3 linked regions of the Homo sapiens genome follow. The protein of the gene in region 3 purifies or fractionates together with the protein of the main gene of each other region. This does not show direct contact. Each region holds a gene or a part of one and is shown on either strand. Other genes may lie near its edges.

Region 1 (7,322 bases), on a different chromosome or scaffold from region 3:
ATTAGTATGTTGAGTAGATGGAAGGAATGAGATACTCAAAACCAGTCACACTGTGTAGTATCACAGACCTGCAACAACCTATAGCTGAAATCAGTATTAAGTAATGGTTTCATGAGGCAAATGTAAATCTGACATCTTGAAATTTTGTTTAACCCTGAGTAACATGCCACCAGTACTTCTCAAAACTTACCAGGAACTGGCATTCTGTCTACCAATGTAAATTCTGAATACCTAAGTGATCTCTGTGAAGGGGAGTGGAGGATCTTTAACTAGACAGAAGTGGGCCCAAAACACAGGGAAGAAAAACTGTGAAAGCTACAGTTCTACTCTACTAACGGGGCTACTGCCTTAGCATTTTGCCCACTGTGGCATATTCTGTTGAATATCCTCAGTGATTTGATACATAGTAGATGCTCAATAAAAGCTTGCTGAAATGAAAATTAAACACCTGCCTCCAAGGTTACTGTAAGCATTAAATATACTATCTGAAAAACACCTACAATAATTATATAATCTTCCAGAATGCAGTAAAGAATATATATGATAACAAATATAATGTGCCTGGTACATAGTAGTCACTCAATAAATGTTGCCAATGGCAAACAAGACAAAAATGAAAGAATTTATCCAGCAGGTATGATATTTTATTAGTCTAGTTATTTCAACACATGACACGAGTTTAAAAAGAACTACCTACAAAAGAGGAACAGGTTGATTAATAAATGAAAGAGTCAAAGTAGATTATTTATGGAAAATATGGAGGGCAGCAGCTGCATCTTGTTTTCAGTATCTAATGCCTATCTCACAGTATGTGTCTGTTGAATGAAATGTTCTGGGCATTTCTTTGAAGCATGTGTAGTCCTTGAAGAATGGAAGAGATGTCCACTTCCCTCAAAAATCAGAATTAATGAATGCTGGGAGTGGAATAAGCCTTAGAGATAACCTAGTCTAGGGGTGACCAAACTACAGCTTGTGGCCTATTTCTATATTACTCTTCAATTAAAAATGTTTATATATATATATATATATATATATATATATTTTTTTTTTTTTTTTTTTTTTTTGAGACAAAAGTTTCACTCTTATCACCCAGGCTGGAGTGCAATGGCACGATCTCTGCCACTGCAACCTCTGCCTCCTGGGTTCAACCGATTCTCCTGCCTCAGCCTCCCAGGTAAATGGAATTACAGGTGCTTGCCACCACGCCCAGCTAATTTTGTATTTTTAGTAAAGACGGGGTTTCACCATTGTAGCCAGGCTGGTCTCGAACTCCTGACCTCAGGAGATCCACCCACCTCAGCCTCCCAAAGTGCTCGGATTACAGGTGTTAGCCACTGTGCTCGGCCGTTTTTTAAAATATTTCTAAAGGGTTTGTAAACACATACACACAGTGTGTACCCCAAAAAGCCTAATATATATATTATCTGGTCCTTTATAGAAAAGTTTGCAGACCCTTGATGGAATCCACTCTCCACACTTTGCACAAGAAAATGGTGAATTAACCTGTTCAATGTCAACTACTTATCAAAGTTAGAGTGCGAGACCTGGATTCAAAATGATTTTTTTGCTTTTTGTATGAACTGGGGTCCAAATTTTTTCAAAGTACACGTAAAAAATTTAGATATATGAAGTTTGCATTAGCAATTCCATTTATTCTAAGAACGATTAAAGCAAACTTTTTTTTTAAAAAGCGGTCCCCTAAAAAAAAGTATGGGCTTTGTAAGCAAAAAACAGAAATTCAAAAACCACCTAGTCCCATAATACTAACTTTTTTATAGACTCTTAGAAAGTTATCTAACCTTTTTTGAGCCTCTGTAGTCTTAACTATAAAATGAGGGTAATAGTACCTTTACGACAGGTTTAAAAAGATTGCGAGGATCATATAACTGGCGTTCAAAAAACTGACTTTTCCTTTTCCTCCTAACCCAGGGTCATAGTGGTCACACTTTAGGCAATCAATTAGATTGGATGACATGATATCTTGTACTCCTAACTTCAAGTCATCCTTCCGTCTTAGCCTCCCAAAGTGCTGGGATTACAGGTGTGAGCGCCTGACCTTTTGCCATCTCTTTGCATCGATCTTTGCTTTTGTTTCTCTCTGTGTGTCTCCTTGCCTCTCTCCCTGTCACTGTCTCTCTCTCTCCCCTGCCTCCCTCTTGGTCTCTTTTTTTTGCTGTCTCTTTCTGATGACCTTGTTCCCATCTCTGTGCGTGTGTGGCTCTCTCCCTGTCCATCTCTTACCATCTCTGCCTTCCTCTCCCAGGTCTTAAACGAATATTTCCACAATGTCTGTGAACTGGACCTGGTGTTCAACTTCTACAAGGTAGGCTCCTGGTGAAGAGGAGGCTGAAGGAGCCCGAGGAGTGGGACGTGGGGGACCCGTGGTGCACTAGCCACCCGGAGCCTCTGCTGAGGTCTGTGTCCCAGCTCGAGGGGCATCAGAGCCCCAGCTTCCAGGGTCCGGGCCAGCATCCCGGGGGGCCTCGTCTCACCCACGTCAACTCGTTATTCCTAGGTGGAATGTTTCCCACTTAAGAGCCCAGTGGTCCCGGAAAGTAAAGAGATCGGAAGTCAGGTGGACGGACAGAGTCGGATGGAGCAAAGAAGCCCGGCACACACCAACAGAGAGAACGACATAGCGCGGGAAGGAGGGTCCGAGGAGACACATTCCAAACCCGGAAAGGGAAATTTGGAATTTAGGTTTAGGGTAAGGAGAGATTAAATAGAGCTGGGATACCGGGTTTCTACCCTGGGAGATGAATACGCTCAAGCTGGCTGGACAAGACACCTTATGACAATACAGTGAACGCACGTCACTCCTTACCTGTTGCCTAAGTCCACGGCCACAGCTCGAGACCCTGCGCTACTCCATAGTGCTCGCACTTGCAACTGGGTGAGTGCCCGATCCCGCCGTGGCAGAAGGAAAGGACCATCGCTCAGGGGCCGGAGCCGGAGGCACGAGCAGCAGTACCTGCAGGCCGCCATGACACCCGGCACGCGGTCAACGCAGGCTGTGCCCTGATTGGCTCACTCCGCAGACCGTGGGGCGGAGCCTGATGGAGTTTCGTTTCCGCGGTGCCCGAGGGACGCCGGGGTAACGGAAACCTTGGCCACCTTCTACGAAGACTAGAGAGGGTCAAACCTATCAGAACGCGATTATGTTGCAAACGATCTTTGTCTTTATGTGCCAACGAAAGGCAATTAGATAAATAAGGTTTTTGTGTGTGTACTATCGTAATTTAAAGGAGAAGTCCTAGAATAATGTAAATGTTTAATATGCAGAGTAAATTTATATTTACTTTTAATACTAGAAGTCATAGAACAACACATTATTATTATTTGGATCTGTGAACTAAGAATTAGAATTTGGGTGGTGGGCCTTGGAAAGAGATCTCCTTCTCCCCTTCTCCGCCCTGGTTTTTATTTTAAAAATTTCACATAGCAGATATGTTACTACAGCGATTTGTGTTAACCAATTTACAGTAAATTCATTTTTCATCGACTTGTAATTTTAGAAATCTTTATTGTCACTTCTGATTCATTTTCATTTCCATTGCTAATAATTAGCAATTTATATTTCTGTCCCTTTTGGTCGAACTCTTAAATGCAAAATGCCAGCTACTGTTTGAAGTAAATATTTTGTAAAATGAAAAAAAAAAGTTTTTGGGATTTGAAAAATTTTTAGAGAATGGATAAATTTCTTCCACCCCATTAATCCATTCTGTTAGAAATTCTTTATGTTTTTCCTTGAATGAACCAATGGGCATTTTCATATTATGATGTAAATTTTTTGTGTAAGGTGATAACCGCCTTACCCCAAAGAAAACCAAACAACAAAAACCCAACACTCATTCAAACACAGTTTTAAGAATTAAAAACGTTGGCTGGACGCTGTGGCTCACGCCTGTAATCCCAGCACTTTGGGAGGCCGAGGCGGGCGGATCACCTGAGTTCGAGACCAGCCTGACCAACACAGAGAAACCCCGTCTCTACTAAAAATACAAAACTAGCCGGGCATGGTGGCTTATGCCTGTAATCCCAGCTACTCGGGAGGCTGAGGCAGGGGAATCGCTTGAACCCGGGAGGCGGAGGTTGCAGTGAGCCGAGATCGCGTCATTGCAACAAGAGTGAAACTCGGTCTCAAAAAAAAAAAAAAAAAAAAAAAAAAAAAAAGTCCGGGCGCAGTGGCTCATGCCTGTAATCCCAGCACGCTGGGAGGCAGAGGCGGGTGGATCACGAGGTCAAGAGACCCAGGGCATCCTGGCCAACATGCTGAAACCGCGTCTCTACTAAAAATACAAAAATTAGCTCGGTGTGGTGGCGCGTGCCTGTAATCCCAGCTACTCCAGAGGCTGAGGCATGAGAATCGCTTGAATCCAGGAGGCGGAGGTTGCAGTGAGCCGAGATCGCGCCACTGCACTCCAGACCGAGACTCCATCTAAAAAAAAAAAAAAAAAAAAAAAAAATTAAAAATGTTGATCCGTGATGATTTAAAAAAGAAAAAAGAATGATGAGCTCTAAACAGACAAATGATTTGCTGGCAAAGCAGTTTTCTGACACCTTGCTTTCATGAGCTATTATTACTGATTTGGGATTTCCATTCCAATAGAGGGATTACCATTAACTTTGTTTACAGATTTTTAGTGTTAAAGCAGTTTTTGCGTCTCCTCCCTTTTACTTTACCTTGAGTTGCCACAGAGTTTTCCAGACCAATCTATTGAAATCTCTCATGAAGATAAATCTCTCAGAAAACCTACTTGCCACAATTGAACATGACTTTTGATTTATAGAGTAAGAATACAAAATCATCTTTTTGTTAATATACTTAATTACTATGTAATCATTTTCATTTGGGCAGTATTGCCTAATAGTTTAGAGCATAGACTTGGAGTTAGTCCCAGCTGGTTCCAATCTTGTCTCTGTTAATTACCAGTTGTGTGACTCTAGCTCTCTGAGCCTCAGTTTCCCCATAAAAACAGATAGTAATATGAATCTAATAGGGTTTTTGTAAGGATTAAAAGTGTCGGCCGGGCGCGGTGGCTCACGCCTGTAATCCTAGCACTTTGGGAGGCCGAGGCGGGTGGATCATGAGGTCAGGAGATTGAGACCATCCTGGCTAACAAGGTGAAACCCCGTCTCTACTAAAAATACAAAAAATTAGCCGGGCGCGGTAGCGGGCGCCTGTAGTCCCAGCTACTCGGGAGGCTGAGGCAGGAGAATGGCGTGAACCCGGGAAGCGGAGCTTGCAGTGAGCCGAGATTGCGCCACTGCAGTCCGCAGTCCGGCCTGGGCGACAGAGCGAGACTCCGTCTCAAAAAAAAAAAAAAAAAAAAAAGTGTCAGATGATATAATAGTACCTAGCACATTGTCAACACTCAATAAATGGTAAATTTAGCTTTCATCCAGCCTTTTCGTTTTTTTCAAGACAGAGTTTTGCTCTTGTTGCCCAGGCTAGAGTGCAGTGGCGTGATCTCAGCTCACTGCAACCTCCGCCTCCGGGGTTCAAGTGATTCCCCTTCCTCAGCCCTCCCAAATAGCTGGGATTACAGGTGCCTGCCACCATGCCTGGCTAATTTTTTGGATTTTTAGTAGAGATGGGGTTTCATCATGTTGGCCAGGTTGGTCTTGAACTCCTGACCTCAGGCAATCCACCCGCCACGGCCTCCCAAAGTGCTGGGATTACAGGCATGAGCCACCGCGCCCAGGCTTATCCAGACTTTTCTTAATTCTTCCTCCAGTTTCCAGGTATTCTGAACATTTTTCTCTTCTTCAGAACTCCTTGAACTCCTTGAATCGGTTAGCTTTTATCCAGCCAGAAGTGATGGAAAGCAGCATTTACCTATTAAGAATCCCCCACCCCCATTTCCTCACACAAATCTGATATAATTCAAATAGTAGTAATTGGATAGTAAACTCAAAAGCAAATGTAGGCACTAAAATCTTGCAGCAGAGCTTTATTATGAAGATATAGATGATACAGAATGCGTTTATATGTTTATATTAAGCATTTTTAGATTAGCGTAGAAAGAAAAATATAATAAGTTTAAATTCTTGTAGTTGTTACTACTGAAGCTATAATCCGTGAGGTTCAGTCTGAGATGTTATTCTGCAAGTAGAGTTATGTCAAGTGTAGTTCAACAGCCAAAATATAATTTAAAAGGGATTTATTTACCTATGACTGCTGAAGGACATTAAAAATGATCCAACTTAAATCCACCAGCAACTTCTCAGATCTCCTTTTCCCTTTTCTTCAAACTCTGATGAACCTGCATCAAAACAGTTAATACCACTGCATGTTCTGAATAAGCAACTACGTTAAGTAAAACACCATTGCATTAAATTATGCTTAACTACTTTTTTTTTTTTTGAGATGGAGTCTTGCTCTGTTGCCCAAGCTGGAGTGCAGTGGCACAATCTTGGCTCACTGCAACCTCCACCTCCTGGGTTCAAGCAATTCTCCTACCTCAGCCTCCCAAGTAGCTGGGACTACAGACGTGCGCCACCGCGCCCAGCTAATTTTTGTACTTTTAATAGAGACAGGGTTTCACCATGTTGGCCAGGCTGATCTCCAACTCCCACCCTCAGGTGATCTGCCTGCCTTGGCCTCACAAAATGCTGGGATTACAGGCGTGAGCCACAGAGCCCGGCCCTTTAACTATATTTTAATTTAGTTTGTAGTTTAGTTTAGACAGGATATACATTTATATTGCTTTTATGACTAAAAGCTGTAACAATATGGAAGTTATATTTTGTTATATAGTAACATTATAATTAAAAGTATCAGCAGTCCCTGAAGTGTTCAGGAAAAAATTCTTCTCTTGAAAGAATGTAGCCTACTCAACTTTAAGAAAGTCTGTGCTACACCGCTACCAGAAGGATCTTCTTTCTCAATCACAAATAGAATTGTGTCTCCATCCTGATTAAATTTTTTCAGTGGCTTCCTAAATCTTTAAGGATAAAATTTAAACTGCTTTGTATAGACTATAAGCTTTTCCTTTCCTATTGGCCTCATCAACTTTTTCTTACTACCCTGTTTCCTTCCCTTCCTCTTTTCACTTTATACTCCAAGTAAACTGAACTGCTTGTTCCCTTGCAATACTTCTCCTGCATCTGTGGCTTTGCAGGTATGATTCTCTGTGCTTGGCACACACTCCTCACATGCATCAATCAAACAAACTCAGTCTTCAGTACTATCCTCTTTACTTCCCTAGGCAGACTTATGGATACAATCTATGTCTGTCCTTCCACTTTATTAATGTATTTATGTAGTTATTAATTCATCTGTGCAAGTGAATGTGGGAATAGGTATTGCATAGTGGTTA
Region 2 (6,588 bases), on a different chromosome or scaffold from region 3:
CTCCTTGTAAATTATCAGAAATAATCCACAATGATTAAATTATGCCAAAATCAAGTGATAAATTTCTGTAACTGAAGTTCCCCAAATGATCTTCAAAAAAAGTCCTAAGAGCATTACAACAGTATATTCAATGTCCTATGATATTTAATCAATCTTTTAGCGTCACATTAAGGACTAGAAAAGGGCATTTACTTGGTGTTTCAGCTTTCTAGAGTCGGAGCTTTCTCAAAGTCCTCATCCCCATAAATGCATTTTTCTTTTTTCCTTTTTTTGTTTGTTTGTTTGATCTTCACTGGGCAGCTATCTTGACTTTGGAAGGAAATGGTTATCTATCCCAGGATGTCCCACACCAGCTGATTATGTTGCCCAGGCTGGTCTCAAACTCCTAGGCTAAAGGGATCCTCCCACCTCGGCCTCCCAAAGTGTTGGAATTACAGGCATGAGCCACTAAAGGCATTTTTCATTACTGAGATTAGGCTCACAAACACATCCATAATCCAACCAGGTAATGTTTCTAAGGTAACCTTTTAGCAGATTTATTACAGTACAATAGATTATGAGGGGGAATTCTATACATACAAATAATATACAAACACAATTACCTAATTTATTAATTTACAAAACCCAAAAAGTTAAACCAACTAAAAATTTATCAGTATCACCATCAGAACATCTTTTCTTTTTTTTCTTTTTTTTTTGAGACAGAGTCTCACTCTGTTGCCTAGGCTGGAGTGCTGGAGTGCTGGAGTGCAGTGGTGCCATCTCAGCTCACTATAGCCTCCGCCTTCCGGGTTCAAGCGACCCTCCTGCCTCAGCCTCCTGAGCAGCTGGGGCTACAGGCGTGAGCCACCCCGCCCGGACGATTTTTGTATTTATAGTAGAGACGGGGTTTCACCGTGTTGGCCAGGGTGGTCTCGAACTCCTGACCTCAGGTTATCCACCCACCTTGGCCTCCCAAAGTGCTGGAATTACAGGCGTGAGCCACCACATCCGGCCTCAGAATATCTTTTCTAGCACAAACTCTAAAATTGTTAACTTAATTTTACCAACATTGGTTTCACTAGCTAATAAAACAGAAAAATCACTTGGCATAAAATGAAAAACTATTCCCTATGTCCTCTTTTCATTAACAGTCTAAATTATTCTGAATCACTCTTAGCTAATTACAATTACATACAGCTTGACATTCATTTTCCTAATACCTTTAGAACTTTCTTAAGACATATAAAATAATACCAGGGATTTTGTCTACATTCCATTTTATTTTATTCATACTTTCATTTTCTTCCTACCTGAATTACGAATTTTTAGAAGTTGAACAAGTTCTTTTGAAAGTCAGTTGGAAGCTTATATAAATAGGAACACTTTTTTTTTTAAGGTAAAGTTATCAAGCCAGGCATGGTGGTGTGTGCCTCTTGTCCCAGCTACTCCAGAGGCTGAGGCCAGAGGACTGCTTGAGCTCATGAATTTGTGAGCAGCCTGGGAAACACAGCGAGACCCCATCTCTTTAAGTTCAGGGGTTGATGTGCAGGCTTGTTACATAGCTAAACTTGTGTCCTGGGGGTTTGTTGTACAGATTATTTCATCATCAAGGTATTAAGCCTAGTACCCATTAGTTATTTTTCCTGATCCTCTCCCTCCACCCACCCTCCATCCTCCAATAGGCCCCAGTGTGTGTTGTTCCCCTCTGTGTGTCCATGTGTTCTCATTATTTAGCTCCCACTTATAAGTGAGAACATGCAGTATTTGGTTTTCTTTTCCTATGTTAGTTTGATGAGGATAATGGCTTCCAGCTCCATCTATGTCCCTGCAAAGGACTTGATCTCATTCTTTTTTTATGGCTGCATAGTATTCCACAATGTGTATGTACCACATTTTCTTTATCCAGTCTATCAGTGATAGGCATTTAGGTTGATTCCATATCTTTGCCATTATGAACAGTTCTGCAATGAATGTGTGCATGCATGTGTCTTTATAATAGAATGATTTACGTTCCTTTGGGTATATAGTAATGGTATTGCTGAGTCAGATGGTTTTTGTCTTAGAAGACCCCATCTCTTAAAAAAAAAAACAGTTGTTAAACAAAAAAACCAAACTCTAATATCACACAAAAGAATACAATATGACACTCCTGAATTTCACAGATTTTTCATTTCATGTCTTGGGCTTAAGCGCAGTGCAGGCAATATTTCAGCGGTCTTTAACTTTGTCTGCATATTAGAATCACCCAAAAAAGTTTTTATCTTGATCCAGCCAAATAATCTAAATATCTGGGTGTAGGCCTAGGTATTTCTTTTTAAGGCTCCCCCAGTGATTTTTAAAGTACAGTGAGGGTTGGGAATCAGTACAATACTACCTAGTGCTGCTACTGTTGTCCAATACAAGGATGTAATATTTGAATTAGCCAACAATTATCCTTCTTGATAGTAGTATAAACAACCCTCACCTATGAATATTCTCATTAATTTTTTTCCATGCTACAGACTTTGGTTGGTATGTGATCTTTGCCAACTATAACTAATGACTTAGAAAGAGATGTGGGTTCTAGTCCTGATCTGTCCATTTGTGAACCTATTCTAATTACTCCCACCAGCTAGGCCTGAATCATTACCTATGAAATGCTGGTGTTGGATTAAATATCTAGGACCTTTTCTAACACTGTAACATTATAACCAGGATGTTTTACAAATTAAAAATAAGTAAGTTTTTTACTTATTTATCCAGTTTAGTTCCAGTAGTTGTGACTATTCTCAATAGCCATAGGAATCATGCTAAATTCCATGAAGGTACACAGAATGTATTTCCTCATTAGGAACAATATTCAAAGTTATTGTGAATGTCACAAGATGCTGAGGAAATGCCAAAGCAACCACATTTTTTCAGACCTGATGCTACTGTAGCAACAGACATTCATGGGGGAAATGCACTTGGTGAATAATTGTAATTAAAGTATCAATTAAAAAACTTAGGTTTTGTGGTCTCATTAAAGTTATTTACCTTATCTGTGCTTCTTCTATTACAAAATGGACATAATAATAGTACTTACTCTCGGGGTTGTGAGAATGAAATTATACAATGCATTTAAAGTATTTAGCAGCCAGGCATGGTGGTTCATGCCCATAATCCCAGCACTTTGGGAGGCTGGGGCAGGCAGAGAGCTTGAGCCCAGGAGTTTGAGACCAGCCTGGGCAATATGGCAAAACCCTATCTCTTCAAAAAATGCAAAAAATTAGCAGGGAGTGGTGGCGCACACCTGTAGTCCCACCTACTTAGGCAGCTGAGATGGGATAATTGCTTGAACCCAGGAAGCAGAGGTTGTAGTGAGCAGAGATAGTCCCTCTGCATTCCAGCCTGGGGGATAGAGTGAGACCCTACCACAAAAAAATAAAAATTAAAAAAAAAAAAGTATTTAGCAAATGCCTTGAAAACATGTGCTCAATACTTTTTAAAGATCTTTTTCCCCTAGAAACCTTAAAGTATAAAGCCACGTCTATAAGTCAAGAAAAGCAAAGGAATTTAAAATCAATTATTTTATTTCTACCATCAGGTAATGAAAAGGACTAGGATCCATCTATACCATCAGATGATTTTTGGATGAAGCAATTCTGAACCGGGTAATAGAACTGCTTGGGAAAGCCCAACTTTTTCTGGAAACAAAAGATTAACATTTGTCCCTTCATAATCTCAGTGAATACAATATACGATAAATTCCAAGGAATTCAAATTTAACTAGCATTCATTAGGTTGATGAAACTAACTCTATAAATTACATTTGATTTAGCTGTACAAAAACATTAAGATGAACACAAACAAGAATAGTATATGCAAGGGTCTACTTTTTACTTCACAATAGACCACAAGGAAGTAATACTTATACTCCTAAAACAGAGGCAGTTACAAATTTGCAGAAACCACAAACTGAAATAAACAGACATATATAAAACAGAGAGAAATTTGGCTAATATTTTAATATCCCAATGAAGAATCTGAAAAACACTCTCTATGAAGAACATACGGAATCCACTCTTCAACAGAAAAGCCTGCCCATTAATGACACTCCAAGAAGTGTCATGATATATGCGATTCACTTTCAAGTCTTCAGCAAACTAAAAATAGAGTTATGAGACTTAAACAGATAATAGACAGTGAAAGCAAATATGACAAAACAAATTATTATATGATAAACAACCCGTTAACAAAGGAAGGTAGATGGAAAGTATGTGGTTATTCTTTGCATTTTTTCAGCTTTTCTCTATGTTGAAAACTCTTATGATACAAAATTTGGAAATGAACATACATTCTAAGCTTAAAAGTATAACTGAAATTAGTCTCTTTTCCCCTTAAATATTAAACATATTTCAGTAATAATTATATTTTATTTGAGGATTTTCAATGAACTATAAAACCAATCAATAGAGTTGAGATAGACATAGAATTACCTTTGAATATAACAGAAGCTCCTGAATATGAACAAGAAGGGCTTCTTTTGAAGAAAGAAGAGCCCGCTTCCTGGGCTCAGAATTTCTTGTTTCAGCAGCCTGAATTTATTCCACTGGAATCCATCAAAGTATCAAAACCACGCAGATTCAATTAGAGTCAGTCAACTCACAGTAAGCAAAGTTAGTTCTTGGCTTTTCCTTTTTTAACAGGAAGTTGACCTGTAGCTTCCAAATACTTATTAATGACGTCTTCTTGTGTGGATGGTAAACATGGCTGATACCTGCTATACTCCATTGTGTATTCTCCCTTTCCCTAGGGATTTAAAAAAAAGAGAGGGTTTTTTGTTTGTTTGTTTGTTTTTTAAACTATCAAGTAAAAGTCATACAAGGTCAAGATTTTATAATATGATCATTCTGTAGGGTGGTCTTTTGAAGGGTAAGTTTAAATTTGCCTACCTCTGTGCATGACCTAAGTTCAGTGGAATAACCAAACATATCATTTAGAGGGACCTGAAAACAAACATAGTAGATATTTTAGCACTGCTTATTGGAAAATATTTGAGAAAAATACAGACGCATTTTAGCCATTTAATTCCTTTAGATTAAGATTTCTGCTCACTACTCTTAGTTTAAAATAATTAAAAGCCAAAGAGAAACATTTCTGTTTTATTCCAAGTGGAAATCCTATTTGAAAATTATTTCATTTGACAGTCGCAACCAGAAACCAAATCTTTCCACTTCGTGGAGTGAACACCATTGACAGCCTTCCCTCCTCATCCCCACTCCGCTCTGTAGCCCCAGCTCAAGCACTCAGAAGTGCTTCTTCTGAGAAAATGTGAATACGACTTTCCTTTGGACACCTTAATGATATGCTGAGAGTAGTGTTTTCCAGGAGGCCTTATGAAATGTAATAAACACCTTCTCCCTTGAGATTTAAGTCAAGAAAGGTACAGGCAAGGTAATTAAGAGGGATAAATTAAAGATAACAATAAAGTAATTATGCAAATAAAGCTAAAATGAGAGAGATAATATACATCTTATTTTATTTTTCCTTTTCTTTTTAATTTGTCCATCTGTGCTTATTCAAGAAAGAGAGATAATATACATCTAAGAAAATGACACATTCACAAAAGGTCAAGATAAAATAAATCTTATTTTTAACTTCTGCACTTAAGAGTTGCTTTAATAGCAAATTACAGAAAATGCCACATGTATAAAGCCACAAATTCAGCAAGGAAATGTGTCCATTTGCAAAAACAAAAGCTAACCTGGATTTCCTTCTATGGTTAATAAAAGCAGGACTGCCAATGACCAAGACTACTTACATCTGCATACAGTGTAAAATAGTCCTCAACTCCATCTTGCCCAGTGATTACCCCATGGCGTCGGTTAATTCCTGCAATTACTTGTCCCTGAAATTCATTTGGAGCTACAACTTCCACAGCCATAATAGGTTCAAGAATACATAATGTTGCATTTGCCAAGGCTGGGTTAAAAAAAAAAAAAAGTTCATTAGTCTTCATACAAACTACAACTCTTCTGTCCAGATATAAAAAAGGGAGAAAAATGATGCTTTCCCAAAGGTACAAACACAAACGGCAAGGTTAAAATATTCGACCTAGACTCATTTTTCCTGTAGTAATAACAGTCACTCTTCTAAATGGAAATTCCAACATTTAATTTTAATATTGGTATTTCCATTATCATATTTTTATCCTTAAAACTCATTAAATAGCAGAGAATAATACAAAAGGGTCTTAAAACAACATCTGATGAAGTCCTTTACCATCTAAATTATCCAGCTGAGTTATTTATTCTCTCTGAAAATCGTCAGGGTTAAAGATAATAACTGTTACAAATTTGACCAAGGTAAACCCATTCTTTCTTTTTTTTTTTTTTTTGTCACCCAAGCTAGATTACAATGGGGCAATCTCGGCTCAATGCAACTCTGTCTCCCAGGTTCAAGCAATTCTCCTGCCTCAGCCTCCGAGTAGCTGGGATTACAGGTATCTGCTACCACTAATTTTTGTATTTTTAGTAGACACAGGCTTTCGACATGTTGGCCAGGCTGGATAAACCCATTCTTTCTTGTGGTCCCTGGCAGGCAGTTATTTTTAATTATAAGAAAATAATTTTTGTCACAGGGCAG
Region 3 (5,365 bases):
CAGCTACTTAGGAGGCTGACAGGAGAATCACTTGAACCTGGGAGGTGGAGGTTGCAGTGAGCCAAGATCTTGCCATTGCACTGCAGCCTGGGCAACACTGAGACTCCATCTCAAAAAAAAAGAAAAACAAAGAGTAGATTGGCAGAACTAGGGGACTGATTTGGGGCAAAGTGGAGAGGAGATAATGGATGGAAAGGAGGCAGGGAAAACTAACAGGTTTTTCGCCTGGCGGGTAGTTAACAAGGTCGATGGAGAGGCAACTGACTAAAATAGAGAAGCTGGTTCATTGGAAACAGAGATGACATCTTTTCCTTTCAGACAGTTTGAGTTTAAGGTGTCAACAGGACATCCAAACATATATGCCCAGTAAGCACATGAATATGAAACTCAGGGAAGTGGTTGTGGGGAGTCACCAGCAAATAGGTGGTGATAAAGTGTGTTAGAACAGTGGGCTAAGGATAACAGTCCATAAAATATAAACATTATTTTGGGTTAATATACAAAATGCAATGAAATTCAAACGACATGAAAATACAGAAAATGAAATTTAGTACTGTGAGAATGAAGAATTACTTCTGATATTTAAATAGTATGTTCCTACAGTTTAGAAAAATGAGGGTACTAAAGCACATTTTGATCCAGTCAGGACAAATGCCCTCTATACACTCAGATTGAGTCAAAGTTTTTACAAAGGTATGCTCAGAAAGACCAAAGAAAATTTGATGTTATCTTTAACAAATAATGCAACATTTTCAAAAAGGCCATTTTTATAACACTTTTTAAAGCATAATGAAAACACTTGGCTCTCAAGATTGTCCCAAGAATTATCCCCAATAAAATGCAGTAGGTTAATGATCTGATGTCAGGGTGCTAGCTGGTCAGGTTTATTCTGTAAGTAATTTTCTCCTACTATCTAGGATTTTGTTTTCACAGAATGGTAAAAATGTTAACACAGGTCTGCCGTATCCATTCAGCAAAACAGCATGAAGTGACTTGACTTGTCCTGTCACTTGTGGAACAAAGCCTTCTTTAAAAACTAAATGGTCTACTACAATTTAACAGCATCCCACCATCAAACTCTAAATATGAAAGATGAAGTAAGCAGCCACCAAATATAGCAATTCCGGCACTAAGTGAGTACCTAGAGACCTGCAAACTTCCTACTTCTGTCCTCCACTGCCATGTAGAATTTCAAGGTATCACTTCAGGGTGGGAGGTGATATAGGTTATCAGTATTTCTCTATAGGGAGGGGGTGCTGTTGACATTTTTGGCAGCACAGGTTTTTTAGTGTGTGGACCTGTGTTCCCCTCACAACTCAATGTTTCACATTCCAACTCTGCCACCAACCCTTCCTCCAACCCCCAATCCGAAGAGTGCCTCCACTATCTAGAGACACAGAATATAAAATACTTCTGTGTCCCACCAATTATCACACATGCTAATTTCATTTCTAGAATGGTAAAAATGAAGCAAAGACTAGTATCTACTCATAAGCATAGAAAGTTTGACATTTTCTTTTTTCTGTCAACACCTAGCTATTAACATCAAAGGCTGGAATCCTGGATGGTCAGTTCCCTTTGGGCAGACCCAACCTAACCATTTTTGCCATTTTAAAAAAGTGTACATGAGATTATCAGGTAGACTCAGTAAAGCACGACTGGTCCACCTCTAAACAGCAAAGACAAACACATCAAAAAGTGACTGTGATTCTCAAAGGACAAAGCCCACTCCCAACTCCCAGGGGAAAATGGACCTTAGTCTTGTTTCACCTGTGTAATTGGAGGCAGAATAGGATGTGAATTCCGATGTGCTCTGCGTCTGGTTCCACACCATCTTACAGTGAAAAGTGCTGAGTGACTGTAAACCCAACAGGAAAAAACATTCAAAGTGTCATCACTACAGAAACAAACCCAGCAGGACCACTTCTGCATGCAGGCAGTATTAGGTCTCAGATGCTCCCTTTCTGCCTCCTGATAGAGTGGATGCAGGAACTTTGGGGACATGATGAACCACACACAAAATGAACGAAATGGCAGAGCACTCTCATTTTGGAAAGTTTCTCTCAGGTAATATCCCATCACTGCCTATTAAGACTAAAGGATTAAGTACTAATTTACACTCATAAGGGACTAATAAAATTTCCTGGCCTGTCACTTAAGGAGAAAAACCAGCAGACCAGACGTGAAGATAAACCCTCAGAGCTACTAATGCCTCATTCAGGACTCTTTCCCACAGATTAGTGTTGAGATTATCACACGGCTTACACAGTAGGGAGGAAATGCATAGCCAGGACTCTTACCAAGTCCGGTAAATAAGGAATACCTAGATACTACTGTTTCTGTCAATGCCATAGACACTTAGATGACCCGTTAATTTTACTTCATCCCAACAATGACCGTGCAGAATCTGCGTCCCTGACGCAAAGCAGGAAGCAAATATTTGGGCAAGAAAATAAAGTCAGTTACAGATTTCACAAGTATCTTGTACACCAGTCTGTAATTTTTAATTAGAATTAGCTAAAAGACATTGTACCTTTCGCGTGTATGACTGAGCATAACAGTGCTTAACAGTGTCTTTATTAAGTGAATGCCTGAAAGTATTCAACATTAAATTCAATTTATTTCACATTAATGTTTGCAAATACATCATCAATTCTTACATATTTCAAATCAACTTCAAGTACAGAAGGCTTCCTCTCAAATAAGTCTCCTGAGGTGACATAAAGACTGAAAGAAGCCTATGACTTGAGTCCAAGTCTCTTAACCAACAATCACCATATCGTCACTGGTGAACTCATACGTGGGGACTTCAAGGTTGAGAGGAGCAGGACCCAATCTGATCCTGCCAGATGCATCATAGTGTGACCCATGGCAAGGGCAGTAATAACCACCAAAATCTCCTGCATTTGCAATGGGTACACAGCCAAGATGAGTGCAAACACCTATCAGGATAACCCATTCAGGTTTCTTTACTCGATCTAGATCATGCTGTGGGTCCCTCAACTGTGATAATTCAACTGCAGCTTCCTGCTCAATTTCCTTCTGGGTTCTATGACGCACAAACAGGGGTTTGCCTCTCCATTTGAAAGCCATGTTCTTGCCTTCTGGAATATCGGATAACTTGATTTCGATTTTCGCCAGGGCCAACACATCAGCAGAAGCACTCATGCTGGAAACGAACTGGGTGACGGCATTCTTGGCAGCATATGCGACACCCACAGTAGTTACTCCAGTTACCAAATAGGAGAAACCTTTCCTAGCCTCGCTGCTTTCTCTTGAAGACTTCGTACTATCTAAAACTTCAAGGCGGCGGTATTCAGAGAAGTCAGGCACCTTGATGTCTGTGTGGGAATAACAAACAGAAGCAGGGACTGCAAGACAAACAGAAGGTTAAAAAACACAATTAGATGAGTATCCCGAAGGGAGTATATATCAGGAAATAGCCCTTTATGGATTCACAGGTAAAAAATCAAATTCTAAAAATGTGAAATATGGCACTCACTGGGTCTCAGAAATAGTCAAATTGGCGGTGCTAGCATATAAAATCTTAAAAATGAAATGAAGTGAACCACCACCTATCATACTGGTATGAAATCACAAGATACTATTTGTAAATTGAGCTCCCCCTAGTTGGTTGAACATTGCTGATTCAGGATTCACAACACCTCAGTGCATCATGCTAAAAACGTTAAACAGCAAAATAAACAGTAATAACTCAAAGTTTCCGAAAATTCAACTGCCAAGACTTACTATATAAATCATGCTAAATACCTCCCATACTCTCTGGATTAGAAGGACACCCTAAAACTCATCTAGTCCACACAGTAAGTTGACGTGTGATCACCTTATTAAGGCAAATGTCTGCCCCTTATAGTCCAATCTATGTTCTCGGAAAAAACTGTTAATTCATAAAATAATAATGATATAATAAACATTCTGTGAACTGTATAACTCTGCTGCAGAAAAATTAGCGTTTCTATTTTATACTCTAGTGTATAAATTAGTATTACTTTAACTTAAAACCACTAATAGGCAGAGAAGGACATCCTTATCAGAGCTCTCAAAATAAAATGAAAACTGCAAAAGAACTAATTATTTCAATTTAGCAAGGGAAAAAAAGGGCAAAATTTTCATATCTCCCCCTCTTCAGTAAAGGGCAATAGTTACTGTAAAAGTAGGGGTATTATCTTCCCTTTTCACTGCTGTAGTTCTCTCAACTGGGGCACTTCTAGTCTAGGCCATAAAAGAGCTCAAATGAATGTTAAACAAATAATTACTATGTAGTACTTTGGGAGCAAGGAGTTTCTTTGGTAGTTTAAAAAACAAAAACAAGACACAGTTACATCCCTCTCTCCAATACTATTTTTAAATATCTGACCAAAAAAAAATTTTACCTAGTACCACTTTTAGGTATGTTTCAGGAAGCAAACCTCTTTGCAAATTGTATATTCATCTTAAGAAATTTGCCACAAAGTTTCCTTTTTAAAAAAGGGGACACTAAAAATTCCTCTTTTAGAAAATGTGTATCCAAAATAAAGATCTTTTATGATGCATTTTTATTGTAATAAACTGCAATTCTACCTTGCTCTACTAGGATATCATCCTAATATACTGTACTTCCTTGAGTAGTCAAACATTACAATATGGAATACCTGAACTGCTTTTCACATGATTCTCAAGGTCAATAACTTTATGGAAGCCAGAAGTATTCAAACAATAATGAAACCTACCAAAATCACTCTATGTGCTTTTCTGACTAAATCATTTCCTGGAGAAGACCAGGACACAGATAATGGCAACTTGAGACTCACATCCCAGAATCTGTGGAGTCAAAGTGACATTACATCCTATACTACTACTCTAACAAATAAATGCTAACCTGCCAGTATATACTGGCATTTGGAATTAAGCATAAATTACTTGCTCCTAGCACTACCTGGGATTACAGAAAAGATGAGCTTCCTCCCTAAAAGATAAAGGAATAAAAAGTTCATACTTCTACATTAAAAACAGTATCCACAACCCTTAACAGTATACAAGGAAATGTACAAGAAAACTCAATAAAATGGCTTTGCCCTTCTCATTCAGAGATTTGGTGGCAAAAGTCTCCTCCCACTCTATCTAGCTGGTTACACTTTAGTAGGCTACACCACCAAGAATCCTTTCGGAAATTAAACTGCCCTGTTGCAAAAATCATTCTCCAAATATTTACATGAGCTGCATTAGGTCTGACTTTCAGTAAGATGCTAGATTTAATTCTAACCTAAAGCAAAATCAAATACTTAAAGGAGAAAATTTAAGGAATTTTAACAAAACAAGTTTTATTTTAAGGTTGAGCTCCAATGCGCCTTGGAAATCTGCATGA

The links.
Region 1: the proteins of UQCRFS1 (region 3) and PNPT1 purify together in Homo sapiens (co-immunoprecipitation; 2 studies listed by BioGRID and IntAct, with this or other methods). This does not show direct contact.
Region 2: the proteins of UQCRFS1 (region 3) and GFM1 purify together in Homo sapiens (co-immunoprecipitation; 2 studies listed by BioGRID and IntAct, with this or other methods). This does not show direct contact.

Annotation. Positions count from the first base shown.
Region 1 is NC_000002.12:55,690,839-55,698,160, forward strand, and holds the start of PNPT1 (polyribonucleotide nucleotidyltransferase 1, mitochondrial precursor), read right to left. Parts: upstream 3,007-7,322; 5' UTR 2,986-3,006; coding exon 2,825-2,985; intron 1-2,824. UniProt on the Homo sapiens protein: RNA-binding protein implicated in numerous RNA metabolic processes. Catalyzes the phosphorolysis of single-stranded polyribonucleotides processively in the 3'-to-5' direction. Mitochondrial intermembrane factor with RNA-processing exoribonulease activity.
Region 2 is NC_000003.12:158,689,500-158,696,087, reverse strand, and holds the end of GFM1 (elongation factor G, mitochondrial), read right to left. Parts: intron 5,926-6,588; coding exon 5,765-5,925; intron 4,950-5,764; coding exon 4,896-4,949; intron 4,753-4,895; coding exon 4,621-4,752; 3' UTR 507-4,620; downstream 1-506. UniProt on the Homo sapiens protein: Mitochondrial GTPase that catalyzes the GTP-dependent ribosomal translocation step during translation elongation.
Region 3 is NC_000019.10:29,204,788-29,210,152, forward strand, and holds the end of UQCRFS1 (cytochrome b-c1 complex subunit Rieske, mitochondrial), read right to left. Parts: intron 3,372-5,365; coding exon 2,761-3,371; 3' UTR 533-2,760; downstream 1-532.